Regions from separate parts of the Homo sapiens genome. Here region 2 is linked to region 1. A link means that fine-mapping ties the variant in region 1 to the expression of a gene that starts in the linked region. Tissue or cell type: whole blood. Region 1 holds a variant in brackets; the other region holds the start of a gene. All regions are shown on one strand. Distances are between the middles of the regions.

The links. PIP is the estimated chance that this variant, and not a neighbour inherited with it, causes the effect.
Region 2: it holds the start of ATP10A, and the variant in region 1 is fine-mapped to the expression of ATP10A in whole blood (INTERVAL, PIP 0.95).

The regions. Positions count from the first base shown.
Region 1 is chr15:25,784,536-25,792,405 of GRCh38, reverse strand. All of the region lies in intron 1 of ATP10A (ATPase phospholipid transporting 10A (putative)), which reads left to right. Among named protein-coding and RNA genes, the nearest start is that of MIR4715, 60 kb to the left of the region's middle. RefSeq lists an enhancer at 2,010-2,109. The variant G/A (reference allele first, on the strand shown) is at 4,603.
Region 2 is chr15:25,860,337-25,866,880 of GRCh38, reverse strand. ATP10A (ATPase phospholipid transporting 10A (putative)) reads left to right here and starts at 3,554. Exons shown (of 21, transcript NM_024490.4): 1 at 3,554-4,233. The coding sequence starts at 3,785. ATP10A-DT (ATP10A divergent transcript) reads right to left here and starts at 1,611. Exons shown (of 2, transcript NR_183988.1): 1 at 973-1,611.

The DNA of each region.
Region 1 (7,870 bases):
TGGGGCAGGGGGAGGGCTGGTGGCCACTGTCTTTGCAGAGAGCAGAGCAGGACCTCCCCAGTGTGCTGGCCCAGGGCCCTGTCTCTGGGCTCCACCCTGAGCAGGTACCTTTGCATGAAGACTCCTCTCAGCGCTGAAGCTAATGGTGGCACTGATCCAACATACTGTACTACCATGCCATGTGGGGTTGACATGAGAAAGGACAAGTAGATTAATGGAACCTAATAAGCCCAAATCAAATGATATTATCTGTAACAGAGTGGGTATGTAGGTTCAGTGGGAAAAGAACTAGTTAGCAATATTGACACAATTGGCTGTCTGGAAGAAGCAGCATTGGATGCTCAGGTCGTAACAGAGGAAAATGAACATCAGTTGGTTTGACCATTTAAATGTTTGTTTTAAAAAAAAAATACTCTGCACTCCTCCCACAAAAAACAAACAAGCAATACTTGGAAACAACATGTATAATACAGGGACATAGGTGACTGTCTTAGCCAGGCCTGGAGAAGTCAGATATATTTACCTATATAAACATCTGAAAGGATTATATAACAAAATTATGCTACAACTAGAAATGTTAAAACCGACAAACCATGGCTCTTAGAGAAAAATATTTCCAAAGCAAAAGACAGAAAAGGGGTTAATATTTTCAATATGAATGCTCTCACAGGTTTCGTGGTCAAGAAGAGAGGAAAGAATACAATAGAAAAAGTGAGGGAGGCCAGGCACGGTGGCTCACACCTGTAATCACAGTGCTTTGGGAGACTGAGGCGGGAGAATTGCTGGAGCCCAGGAGTTTGAGACCACCCTGGGCAACATAGCAAGACTCCGTCTCTACAACCAAGTTAAAAAACTGTTGGGCAGGTGGTGCATGTTAGCTACTCCCAGCTACTCCAGAGGCCAAGGTGGGAAGATTGCTTGAGCCCAGGAGGTCGAGGCTGCAGTGAGCTGTGATTGTGCCACTGCAGTAAGCTAGATTGTGCCACTGCACTCCAGCACGGGCAGCAGAGTGAAACCCTGACTCTAACTAAATAAATCAGAAGAAGAAGAAAAAAAGAAAGATTGAAGGGGAAACATGCAGAGTTAATTCACAGAGGAGCCTGCCAAGTGGTCTGGGTGGCAGGGAGATGCACATTAAAAGAAAAGTAGATGTCCTGCCCTAGCCAAGTGTGGTGGGGCACGCCTGTAATCCCAGCTACTGGGGAGGCTGAGGCAGGAGAATTGCTGAACCCAGAAGCCGGAGGTTGCAGTGAGTCGAGATCGTGCCACTGCACTCCAGCCTGGGCGACAGAGCAAGGGTCTTGAAAAAAAAAAAAAAAAACACTTGCAGGGAGGTTTTAAAAAGACGAAGCAGCTGGTTTTGCAGAAAAAAGGGCCTGGAGACTCTTAGATACTGACGGAGGAGTGTGAATTGTTACAGCCTCTTAGGAAAAAATATTTACAATGCAAAACTTCTCCGTAGGAATAAGGAGCGCACAACTCCGGCCCATTTCCTGGGATTGTCATACCAATGAATGAATTAATGCATAAGAAATTACCTTGAAAACTCTAGAAGTGCCCCGGAGTGTTTTACATCCATTACTAGTGGGCAGTATTATTGAGATGTCTTGAGGTCTACTAAGATACTTTGAGAATGTACCATTATATGCAGAAAAGGCCACAGTAGAAATGATTTGTCAGAAAAAAAGTTTCATGTTAAAACTTACTAAGAGGTTTGTAAGTGATACTGTGTTTAGGCATCGTTTTGCTTTCGCAAACTAGTGTTTCCTGGGGAAAATAGATTTAATCTGGGTGTTCAGTGTTGCATTGTAGTGAGTAATTATGTGATGTGAGCATAGCATGGTGTGTCACTTTCTCTGGGCTGAGAGACTCTGCATCCTTTCTTCATTCTAAAAAGAGGCCAGAGGCCCTGCCCTCTGGGGGTGAGTTCCGCTGGGACAACATTCAGCCCTTTCTGACTTACCACAGAGCGACCAGTATTTTCCATTCAGCTTGACTCATTTGAGCAGTCTGCTCCATGCACACATGTGCTTCCACACATCTGGGACATTTCTTAGAGCTCACATCACCTCGAGGAGACATACAGAATAGAAAGTAGTTCAGAAAATACATTTTGTGCATCTAGTCTACACTACTGTATTTTTGGCAATTTTGGTATCAGAAGATTCACTCCAGAAAAAGCACTCCAACTATCATTTCTCACTGCCTCTCACTTTTAGTATTAGATTCAGAATCCATTAGCATGTCTCACTGAAGGAGCAGATGTTTCAGTTTATGGTGGAAGGAAGACACATTCTGGGCGTTATGCAACATACTTGGCTCACGTTCCCACTGCGGATTTTGCCATTGCTGTTTCAGTGCTGAGTTCTCACCTTCATGATTTTAAAAATACATTGGTTCTGTAAACATTTACTTAATAATCCATTTTCCAGAATCTTTGTCCTGGGTGTTTTAAAGCAGCATTTCTCAACCGGGAGCGATTTTGCACCCCCAGGAGGCATTTGACAATGTTTGGAGCTGTTTTAGGTTGTAACAACTTGTAGGGAGGGAGCCCTACTGGCATCTATAGGAGGAGGCTGGGGATGGTGCTCAGCAAAGTGCAGAGCCCAGAGCTGTCCACCATCAAGGATATCCAGCCCCAAATCTCAACAGCGCTGATGGCGGAGAAACCTTTGAAAGCTATTGTTGCTGGCATTCTGGGCTTTCTACTTCTCTGCCTGATGTATAATGAGTGTATATGAAATCTGCGATAATTTTAGAGTCTTGTTTGGTCTTTTTTAAGTGATGTAAAATTATTTTCTCTCTGTCTCTGTCACACACACACACACACACACACACACTTCTTTATTGGTCCACCATATGAAAAATAAATTCCAAGAAGGGTTTTCTTATTCCCAAGGCATCGGCCTTGGCACTAATGATTATTCCACAAGATTCTTGGATCTCTTGTGGTGATCCTCCCATTTAGGGCTCGCCTCACTGTGTCCTGGTTTCACATTTGCTGTTTGTTTAAAGTGTTACACACTTCTCCTGTTAGTTGGCCAAAGGAGTCCCCCAGGCTGACCTCACTTGGGAGGCCTCAATCTAGTTGGTCTGCATGTTAGGTTCATTAACATGTCTTCTTTTTTCTTAAAAAATGTATTCTGGCCAGGCATGGGGGCTCACTCTTGTAATCCCAGCACTTTGGGAGGCTGAGTCAGGTGGATATTTGAGCCCAGGAGTTCGAGACCAGTCTGGGCAACATGGTGAAACCCCATCTCTACAAAAAATAAAAAACAAATTAGCTGGGTGTGGTGGTGCACACCTGTCGTCCCAGCTACTTGGTAGGCTGAGGAGGGAGGATCCCTTCAGCCCTGGGAGTTGGAGGCTGCAGTGAGCTATCATCACAGCCCTGTACTGCAGCCTGAATGACAGATCAAGACCCTGTCTCAAAAACAAACATCCCCGCAAAATAACACATTACCTGTTTCATCTATAAGGCACAAAGCATCCGGATTTTTCTAGGTTTAGTCGAATGTAACACAGATTTAATTGGAGCTTTCTCTTTGTAGGGATTAATTGTTCTCTTCCAATGAAATAATACAGAATGATACTAAACACATAATCATATTTTATATACCACCGCACCTCAAGCAGTACTGTCTGTGTTCTCCATTTCATGGAAATCCTGTAAGCAATCTTACCATCTTTCTAATAAAAAAATCAAAGTAACAGCTCTTGTTTTAATTCCAAACCACAAATCAAAGACAAGATATAACACGCTGCTCATTTGTACTATTTCTGATTGTGTTAGTCAAAATCAGACACTCACTTCAACAATAATAGTGAGGAAAAACCATGCTCAAAAAGAAAACAGGAGATGTGAAGTCAAAATAGTGGCCACGGCCTCTCACTTAATTGAACAGTCACTGTTGACAGTCTGGTGACAGCCAGAAGAGCGTGAAGCGGGTGGGACGGGAGCAGAGGGCTACGGGGAAATGGGTCAGTGTCTGCTGGGGGAGACTGTAGCGATCCTACAGACCCCCGTTCTGCAGATCAGGAACTCGGGCACTCAGAGTCCAGGCTTCTGGGCTGGCGCCCTGTCTTACTGGGGATGAGTCATCAATGCACTTGAGACTGTGTGTGCACCGTGGCTTTGTGACCCTAAATGAAAGTAGTGGCCAGATGTGAAGCACCCTCGTTAATTATTGATCATTCCAAAGCCAGCTGTTTAGTGCTGCTCCTACATGTTTCCTGCAGGAGGGATTTTGTGAGGAAGGGTGTGGCGGCTTTGTGCAGAAGGAACTTGTCAGGTGGCCAGGCTGGGGCCCCTCAAGTGTCAGGTGTGCCCTGCCCACGTTGGGAGCACCTCTCAAAGCCACCAAATCAGCCTGATTAAAGCCAGGGGAATAAACAGCTACCCTGCCCTAGCGGGAACTCTCTCAGTGGCTTGTTTAGCCCAGAGGGAAGTCCCCAAGGTGATCCTGGGGGAGGGCAGTGTCCTTCTATGGCCACACCTCAGATGGTCCCAACTGCAGGTGGTACCAGTGAGGGAGGAGTTCATCCCTCATCTATGCAGGCCGATGTAGGGGGCACTTCCCAGTTTGTAGCAAAAAAAACACA[G/A]TTTGGTGACTCCTGATCTTGGACAAGCCCCCTCCAGTTGTTTGCACATTGGAAGTGGTTTTGGCAAATGGACTGAACTGTGTTACTCCATGTCTGTGTCAAACACTGGCACAAATCTGGAACTGTCTGCCTTTCCTCCCACCTTTTTCTTTTCTTTTTCTTTTTCTTTCTTCTTTTTTTTTTTTTTTTTTTAAGAAGGAGTCCTGCCCTGTCATCCAGGCTGGACTGCAGTGGCGCAATCAGGGCTTACTGCCACCTCAACTTTCCCAGGCTCAAGTCATTCTCCCACCTCAGCTTTCTGAGTAGCTCGGACCAAGGTGTGCCAGCACACCTGGCTCATTCTTGTATTTTTTGGAGAGATGGGGTCTCACTATGTTGCCCAGGCTGGTCTTGAACTCCTGGGTTCAAATGATCCTCCTACTTCAGCCTCCCAAAGTGCTGGGATTACAGATGTGAGTCACCATGCCTGGCCTCCACCGTTTCTCAAGCTTAGTGATATTTTATCTCAGACCACATTAGTCTCTGCACTGCATAATTTTAAAGGGAAAAATGGAAGAACTTTTTTGCTTAGCACTTTATAGTCTTCATGAGATATTCCTCCTTTAGGCTACCAGATCAGATGTGCTTTCAAAACCAAATCTCTCTAAGGCTTCCCAGACCCTGGAGTCACCCAGGTTTGTGTGACTTTTGGGAGGTCAGTCTCTGCGCGTTTGGTTTCCATGTCTGTAAGTGGGAACATACTGTCAGGATCGTGGGAGGGTTCACTGAGAGAGACTGTGAAATGTTCTGTGCAGGCCTGGGTCATAATAGGATATCCAGCACAGCTTTGCTGATTTTTTAATGTTGTTATTACAATTAAGATGATAATGGGCCAGGCACGGTGGCTCACACCTGTAATCCCAGCACTTTGGGAGGCCGAGACGGGCAGATCATGAGGTCAGGAGATTGAGACCATCCTGGCTAACACGGTGAAACCCCGTCTCTACTAAAAATACAAAAAAAAAAAAAAAACTAGCTGGGCATGGTGGTGGGCGCCTGTAGTCCCAGCTACTCGGAAGGCTGAGGCAGGAGAATGGAGTGAACCCAGGAGGCGGAGCTTGCAGTGAGCCGAGATCACGCCACTGCACTCCAGCCTGAGGGATGGAGCGAGACTCCGCCTCAAAAAAAAAAAAAAAAAAAAAAAAAAGATGATAATGATGTCTCAATGCTGAGAGGAATTTAGCGTCTAGAGCTCCTGCTGGTGTGGCCTAAAGACCTGTCCCAAGCTCTTAGTCGTCCATGGCCTTTGTAGGGGAGGTCCACTTCTGAAGAACAGTTCTGTCGTTCAAAAGACTACATGGTCTTGCTACAGCTGGGCATGAAATGTGCTTGAGTGATGCGCAAGAGGACTGTCTGCCTTCATGGATGTGCCACTGGAAGTTACTGTCTCCAAAAATGGAGTAAAACTGCGGTGGTGACGGGCACACATTCGAGATGTCCTTCCAGCCGTGTTCACTCGGCCGTGGGAGGTGAAGGCCGAGGTGTGGAGGCAGACCTGTGGCTGCTGGCTGGGGTGGCAGGCACCCAGGAACCCTGTGTCCTCCGGGCCCTGTGTGGTCAGCCCTGGCCCACCCTGATGCCGTGTGCTGGCGTGGCACCTCTCTGCCCCCAGCCACAACGCCAGCTTCCCCGCCTGGGCACGACCTTGCCTGCATGGCCTGTGCTCAGCCCTCAGCTCTCCTTCTCCCCACACTTCTCCCTGGTGCTCTCAGTGATGACATCCACAGTGGGGGCTGCTGTCACCTCTGTGCTTAAGACCCCCAAATATTTCTGTCTCCATCTGCCTGTCTTCAAAGCTGGAGACACCTCCGGAGACCGGACCCCGCACAGCCCCACCAGCTTCTTGAACTCAAAGTTGGTCACTGTTGGACTCTGTCCCTTCTCCAAGCAGACCCTGCCCCTGGGCGAGGTGGGTGGTGCCCCCATTCCAGCCACCAGGGCCAGAGAACTGGATGCCCATTCAACGATGTCCTCTTCAGCAGCACAGCCAGACTTCCCCAGCCAGCCGTTCTTCCTGTCTCTAGAGGTCCGTGCTGATAAAAGCCTCAAGAAGGGCGTGGTTGAGTGGCTGGTATTAAGAGTGTTGTGCCAGTGGGCTCGATTTCTGTCTTGGGGGTATGTAGAACCTGTGCATGGGGATAAATTGCAGGGTGAGATGCCTCTCCTGCCACTCACTGCTTCTGCCTGCCCTTCAGTTTCTGTCACTACAGCCTGTGAGCTGCTCCTTCCAGCCAGAGTCACGAGAATGGACGTTATTAAGTGTATTCGTCAGCTCAGGCTGCCGTGGCAGTGGACCACAGATGGGGTGACTTCAACAGCAGGAATGTATCACCTCGCAGTTCTGGAGCCTGGAAGTCAGACACCGAGGTGTGGGCAGGATGGGTCCTCCTGAGGCCCCTCCCCTCGCCATGTTCTCCCTGTCCTTACAGCTGTGTGCGCACGCCTCTGCTGCCTTTCTCTTATAAGGACCCCAGCCACATTGCATTTGGGCCTAGCCTTATGGCCTCATTCTAACTTTAATCCTCTTTAGAGCCTCTCTCTCCAAATAGTCTCTCGGGGGACACAGTTCAGGGGACATTAGGAAAGGCTGTTAGGGAAATGCAGCCAGTGGTGACATGGCAGGGTTGATGTGGGCCCAGGCTCCTTGCCGGGTGCTCCAGCTGGAGTGGTTGCAGGATTTGGACCCCTGAGGCATCTCTTGCCTTTTTGGTCTGCTGCAGTAAGGAGGGGCCTGTCCCGCTGTTCCTTCATAAGGGGCTCCTGAATCTGAGTCTTCCAGGGTCTGTCCCTGGTAGGGATTCCCATGGACTGCAGGGCCTTTTCTTTTTCTTTTTTTTTTTTTTGACACGGGGTCTCGCTCCGTCACCCAGGCTGGAGTGCAGTGGCGCGATCTCGGCTCACTGCAGCCTCCACCTCCCGGGTTCAAGCGATTCTCCTGCCTCAGCCTCCTGAATAGCTGGGATTACAGGCACGTGCCACCACACCTGGCTAATTTTTGTATTTTTAGTGAGATGGGGTTTCTTCATGTTGGTCAGGCTGGTCTCAAACTCCTGACCTTGTGATCCGCCCGTCTTGGCCTCCCAAAGTGCTGGGATTACAGGCGTGAGCCACTGCACCTGGCCAGGGCCTTTTCTTAGAAGCCAGCGTCCTTTCTGCAGCCCATGAGGAACCCCTTCCCCCACTCCCACAAACCAGGACAGTGACCTGAGGTCTGCACGTGGCACCCCCA
Region 2 (6,544 bases), 75 kb before region 1:
CTGCTCCAACTCTGCTCGGAATCAATTTTCTATCTATTAAAAGAGCATATAAGATCTTCTCATCTCACGCCTCTCTGCTTGGGGCAGCCCATGGCTCCCTATTGCAGTTGGAGCAAATCCAGAGACTTGTCCTTTCCAAAGGCTAGTGAAGCCCTAAATGCTGGCCACTCTGCTGCTCCTCATGGCTACCCTCTCCTGCATCCAGACCTGCTCTTGACCCCAGACTGACATCACCACTGCCAGCACGACTCCTGCTCCTGAGGGCTGGTGGGCACCTCCAGTTCTGCCTCATCTTCTGTCTTCCCAACTCACTAGATGAAACTTGGGTTTTTAGCTGTTGGGCCACCCTCACCTCCTCTCTTGCACATCCCACAACCATTCCAACAGCATGTCCCGCATGCTCTGAGGAGGCTATGTCCCACATCCACCATGGCCACCCAGCCTGAGCCACAGCACCTTTGCAGGATCACTGCAGTGGCCGCTCGCCACGACGTCTCCCTTCTTCTGCCCTGGCCCTCTACATTCTATTTACATTGCAGCAGGAGTGATCTCTGGAAACCTCGGTAAAGCCACTTGATGCCACTTCTCAAAATCCTCCCAAGCTTTCCCTCTCGCTCAAAAGCCAAAATCCTCACCGGGATCCACAAGGCCCCACATGACCTCACTCTCGGCCACGTCTCCAATCTCCCACTCAGCTCCAGCTACCCCGGCTTCCTTGCTGGGCCTGAAATCCCTGAACGCTCCCTATCCCGCCCCGTGCTTACCATTTCTTCCCTAGGTGCCTGCACAGCTTGTGTCCCTAGGCCTCCGCTCAGTGTTGCTTGAGAAGCCTCCTTGGACCGCCCAATTGACAGGAGCAAGAGCAGGATCCCACCCCTCCCAGCCCTGGTTTCAGGTGTCCCTTCATTTTCTGAGCCATCTTTGTTGGGATTCCCACGTGAGGACTTAGTGTTCCGGGGAGCAGAAACTTACTGTGTTTCCCAGGTGTCCCCATTGCCTAAAGCAGAAGCTGTGGGGTTGAAGGTTTTAGAATGAGTGTGAGGCAGAAGCCCCACCTGTTTCTTAAACACATTGAGATTTCTCCTTCTTTGGGACCTTTTGACAGAGCTGCCCCCTCTGTCTGGAAGCCTCTTCCACCTGATCTTGTCCCATTCAGGTTTCAACTCCAGTGCCTCTCTTCGAAAAGGCCATCCCTCATCCCTTCCAAAGCCCTCCGTGGGCTCTCATGGTTTTTCGTTCAGTTGCTGCAGCTCCATGACAACATCTTGTCCTCTCTAGCTCTCCGATGAATTCCTGTGCCTGGAACATTGCCGGGCATACAGCAGGGGATGAGTAAGTATTTGCCGAACAAGGACACTTACAGTGGTTCTCATGGCCTATAGCAGGCCCTTGTTAGAGCCCTGTGGTGCAGATGGCCAACCCAGAGTTGACCAGACCACATCAGAGCCTCATCCTCGCCCCAGCAGGCCAGGGTCTCAGAGTCCAGCTGGCAGAAGACACCTGAGCTCAAAACCCCTCCACGATTCCCCAGATCACACAGCTTGGAGACCTTTCCAGAGGTGAGCTGAGCTAGGCCTTCCTGGAAATCCTGACTTTGCACTGGGGAAGAGCAGGTGGAAAAAGATTCCAGACTTGAGGAGCATTGTGACTCACAGAATCTTGGAACCTTAGAGCGGAATGTGGATGGGATGAGTAAGGACTGTTCTGAGAAGGATAAGGAGACCTCTCACCTTGGGGCTGGGCCTGAACCAGGGAGGGGCTGAAGAAAATCAGCAAGCTGGTTCCCCTCAGGGCCTCAAGGGACCTCTGCCTGAGGAATCAGCATTTGGCTTTGTAAGCACCAGGAGTACTCCTGGAAGCTCCAGGGTAAGCAAATGGAATGAGGCGGTAATTACTTTGGCAACAGTGTGGACTGGCTGAAGCTGGGAGTCTGGTAGGCGCGGACACCCCTGGAGACTTTGGGCGAAGGGTCCACGGGGATGCCTGTGAAGACAGGAGGCCGAAGTGTAGGGAGGCCGAAGGCCTCGGGGGTCACCAGGTGGGCTGGTAGAGGAAAACACGGAGCCATGGGATGTGAGGCCTCAAGACTGCAGGCGCTGTGGGCCTTCATTTGCAGTTGATGCTCCGTTTGGGTTTCTGCTGGTTGACTGTGAGACCTGACTCCTTTCCCCAACAATGCAGACTTCAGCCAAACCTTTCCCTGATCTGGGCCTCTACATGTCAAAAGCCCACCCCTGTGACTGGGGGATGGGATTATTTTCTTCACACCTGTCACCACTCTACCTTCTAACACTGGGTTCTGGGCAACATTGTGGATGGTGGCAAAACTGGGCAGAGATGTAAGAATGTCATAACTGGAGCCGGGTAAGCCAGGGTGCTGGAGGGGAGGGCCTCCCCAAGCCAGGGTCCTGGCGAAGACGTGATTTGAGTCCATCCAGGGCAGTGCCTTGTTAGCAGGCACCCCCAGGAAGAGCCTGGGGCCACGGCCAACCGCCCAGCCACGGCCTCCTGGGCAAGAAATAACTGCTTCTCATCTCTGTACTTCTTGAGTGGGAGGCAAACAGTCACAGCCATGAAACATCTGTGGGGTCTCACTGCGGACGTGGGGGACTCCCAGCTCCTTTTTCCATGCCGTGCTTATTCTCCCACCCCTTCTCGGATGCCCCATGATGTGGAGGGGAGCCCTTCGCCCCACACTTCTGGGACACCCTCCTGACGCTCCCCTCTCCTCCCCACAACCATCCTCGCCTCCCCACAACCATCCTCGCCTCCCCCGCCGTCCGGGCCATGACAGCCACCTCAGAGCTACAGCGCACAAGGAGCGTTTCGGTCCTCATGATTTCCCAGGGAGGGAAACAGACACTCAAATACCTGCAAACCAAATTCTGTCTTTGCTATAGCGATATATTTCTCCTTTCCATGAAGAAAGAACAGAAAAAAGAAAAAGAATTTATTTAGGAGAGGAAGGAAAGGCAGTAATGATGATGGTGGAAAGGAAACGGTCTAGTTCGCCCAACAACGGAATCTGAAAGTGGTGGGGGCTGGGAAGTGGGGTAGGAAAGAAGTTCTTAGAGGCAACGCGGAATCGCCCTTCCCAGGGCTCCCCAGGAGCAGAGGTCCTGCGTAAAAAAGACTTAAAAATTGGAGCACTGGATGCCATGGATCCTTTGGATTTTGATTCCAGTTGATCCCTGGAGTAAGGTCCTAACCGGGGTCTCCCGAGGTCGTTTCGCCGTCCAGGATGGAGCAGGTCTGGCCCCTGGAAGGGCGCGCGGGCTGCTTGGGGACGGGGGCGCCTTTTCTCGCGCTTCGCGGTTTCCTCTCTCCTACTGCAGGCAGCGCGCGTTTGCAGCGTTTTGGGACCGAACTGATGCTTCTGGGAAACGAAACTAAACCTCTCTGAAGTTTCCAGCTCGGGCTTTTTTTGTTTCCCGCTATCCGGCGTGGCCCAGTCCGGGCGCGGAACGAGGGCGGGGCCGTGGCCACCGCGGCGGAAACGACCCGGGCCGGGGGCGGGCGGCGAGGACAAGGGGGCTCTGTGCGGCACCCGCCCAGCTTGCGCCCTGGGGACTGCGGCCGGGCGGCGGGGCTGGACGGGAGTGGACGGGGCTGGGCGCGGGCTGGGCGCGCTGGGCCGGCCAGGCGGCGCGCTGACCGCGGTCTCCGTGCGTCCCGCAGGCGGGGAGCTCGCACCGCCGCGCCCGGGCCGCGAGTGATGATAACCTAAGAGGCCGGCGCGGGCGGGCGTGAGCGGCGGAGGAGCCGGGCGCGGCGACACGCGGCCATGGAGCGGGAGCCGGCGGGGACCGAGGAGCCCGGGCCTCCGGGACGGCGGAGGCGCCGAGAGGGCAGGACGCGCACGGTGCGCTCCAACCTGCTGCCGCCCCCGGGCGCCGAGGACCCTGCGGCTGGCGCGGCCAAGGGCGAGCGGCGACGGCGGCGCGGGTGTGCCCAGCACCTGGCCGACAACCGGCTCAAGACTACCAAGTACACGCTGCTGTCCTTCCTGCCCAAGAACCTGTTCGAGCAGTTCCACCGCCCGGCCAACGTGTACTTTGTCTTCATCGCGCTGCTCAACTTCGTGCCGGCGGTGAACGCCTTCCAGCCCGGCCTGGCACTGGCGCCGGTGCTCTTCATCCTGGCCATCACGGCCTTCAGGGACCTGTGGGAGGACTACAGCCGCCACCGCTCCGACCACAAGATCAACCACCTGGGCTGCCTGGTCTTCAGCAGGTGAGTTGGGCGGGCGGGCGAGCGAGCGCGCGGTGGCGCAGGGCAGGGCGCCCCGGGAACTTGGTGTTGGGCACAGTGATTGGCAGGGGCTGGGTGCTTAGAAGGCAGCTCCACTCAGGGTGGAGGGCCCGGCTGCGCGGGACCCGGTGCCGACCGAAGCCACAGCGCCGCCAAGGCCTCTCTGTGCCTCCGCCGCAGCTAAAGGGGCGCCCTGGATGCGGGGACGCGTGGGGATCCCCTGTCACTCCGTGTCGGGGCCAGAATGATCCCAAGGCTAGAAACCGACGGCCGCTGGACATCCTCATCCACAGCCGCTCCCACCTGAAGTGAAAGGCAGGAAAAGCCAGCCTGGCCCCCTGGCCTGAAGTCCCTGCCTCAGTCTTCGGCCAGGCACAGTGGTCTCTGAACAGCCGGCACAGGACAGTAAAGCTCAGTCTGCTAACAGCTCGGCTCAGGACAGCAGCAAAGTGAAACTGCCGCCAAGTGCTGATATGTCTGGCACGGCCCAGGTACCAGGGCAGGGGAAATAACAGCAGTGTCCATCCTCCACTGTGAGCCATGAGCCGCGAGCCAGGCACCGCCCGGTAGCTGCCTGCCTAATTTTCTTCATCTTAACCTGCTTCCTGGGGGAAAGAGGCTGTGGGGTGTTTGTGAGCCCTGCCACGGGCAGTACCAGGGGTGACCCTGCGATGGACCACTCCTGCTCTTTTTCCCTCCCTGAGTTTTAGAGTCTCCGGCGGACCTGTCCAGAGGCCTGCGGCCTTTTCATCCTTTATGCTCTCCACCCCAGGAGAGCCCCTTGGTAGATCCATCTTGGAGCTGTGTCCAGCAGCCTGGACCACCTCAAGGCCCTGTCCCTGAGAAAGGTGGGTCGTCTTAGCTTTCCTCCAAAGCTCAGCCCATCGTTACCTCCTGCCTCACCTTGCTTGACCCCGGAACAGGGACTGAGATGGGCTTCTGAATAGAACATTAGCGGTATCTGGCTTCCATTATGCATGGGGAGACTCTAGGAAGCCCTATGCTCTCTTAGTGGCAGATTGTTCCCCTAAAAGAGGAGGGTCAGAGTGGCTCCTGCCTCTTAAACGTAGGCATTCACGAATGCCTTAGACACAGGCACTCATAGCTTGGATGAAGCCATGGATGCGTGCCTCTGTAGTTGAGTACCTTTCACCCTCCCAGCAACACTGCAGTGGTTATGCTCCATATTTTTGTAAACAGAGTAAACGGGTTCAGAGAGGTTAAGTAAACCTGCCCAGTGTCACACAGCAGCAAGGTCGTGGTACTGGGATTTGACCCAGGTCTTCCCGCCCGCACAGCTTTTTGAATATTTCTTTGCTCGTGCTTCTGAAACTTTTGTAAGAGTCACTGAAGGCGCTTGTTAAAATTACAGTTTTCCAAAGTGTCTCACTCAGCAGGCCTGGGATTGAGCCCAGGAATGTATTAGATTAGCGTGCACGTAACTCTTATATGATGGCCCACACTTTCAGAAACACCACTCTGCCTGCTCCCAAGCCTTGCTCTTTGGCCAGTCAGCAAGAGTGACTGTCATTAGACCGGGCTGTGGGATTTCCTGGCCCCTGTTCACCAGAAGCCTGAGCAGGGACAAGAGCGGCACCCCTTACACAAATGGCCTCCGTGTCCCCTGAGCGAGGCCTCCACCACATAGCCCTGGTGGGGCTCAACAGTTTTAAGCCTTTGCACAGATACCACTTCCTGTTATTACTGAGCCCGTAACTCCTGTAGCCTCCTTTTTAGAAATACTTATGCCTCAGGAGAAATACAGTTTATTTTCAGTTGGCAAAGTGCTTTGAATCCATTATGTCATTCGATCCTTATAGTAACTATCACACCCATCTTGCCGATGAGGAAACTGAGGTTGGGATCTAAAAGCTATTCTCTTGTCTCTGTGACCTTGTAAGGCTTCATGGGACTTTGAAACTTTAGCTTCCATTTGGACTACACCCATCTACGTTCCCCTCCCCTTCCACTCTGCCCTTGACTCCAGATATCTTAACTCTCCCTCAGACTCTGTCTTCTTCCTTACTGAAGGAACTGTCAGCATTTTTCATTCACTTCCCAGCTGCCTTGAGGACAGTGGGCGCAATGCCCTACTTCTGTTTATTGTTCCCTGGGAAGGCAGGTCAAATTCTTCCAGTCCCAGAAAGGCTGGAAGAGGTGGTGCCAGGCCCTGGGAATAGAAGGAGGAGGAGGCTGGTTTCACCCAGAGTTTACTGTAGGGACAGATGGCACCATAGGGCATGTCTACCAGGTGAAGTCCTGGGTGGGGCTCCCAGCCCCGGGATGCAGGCTC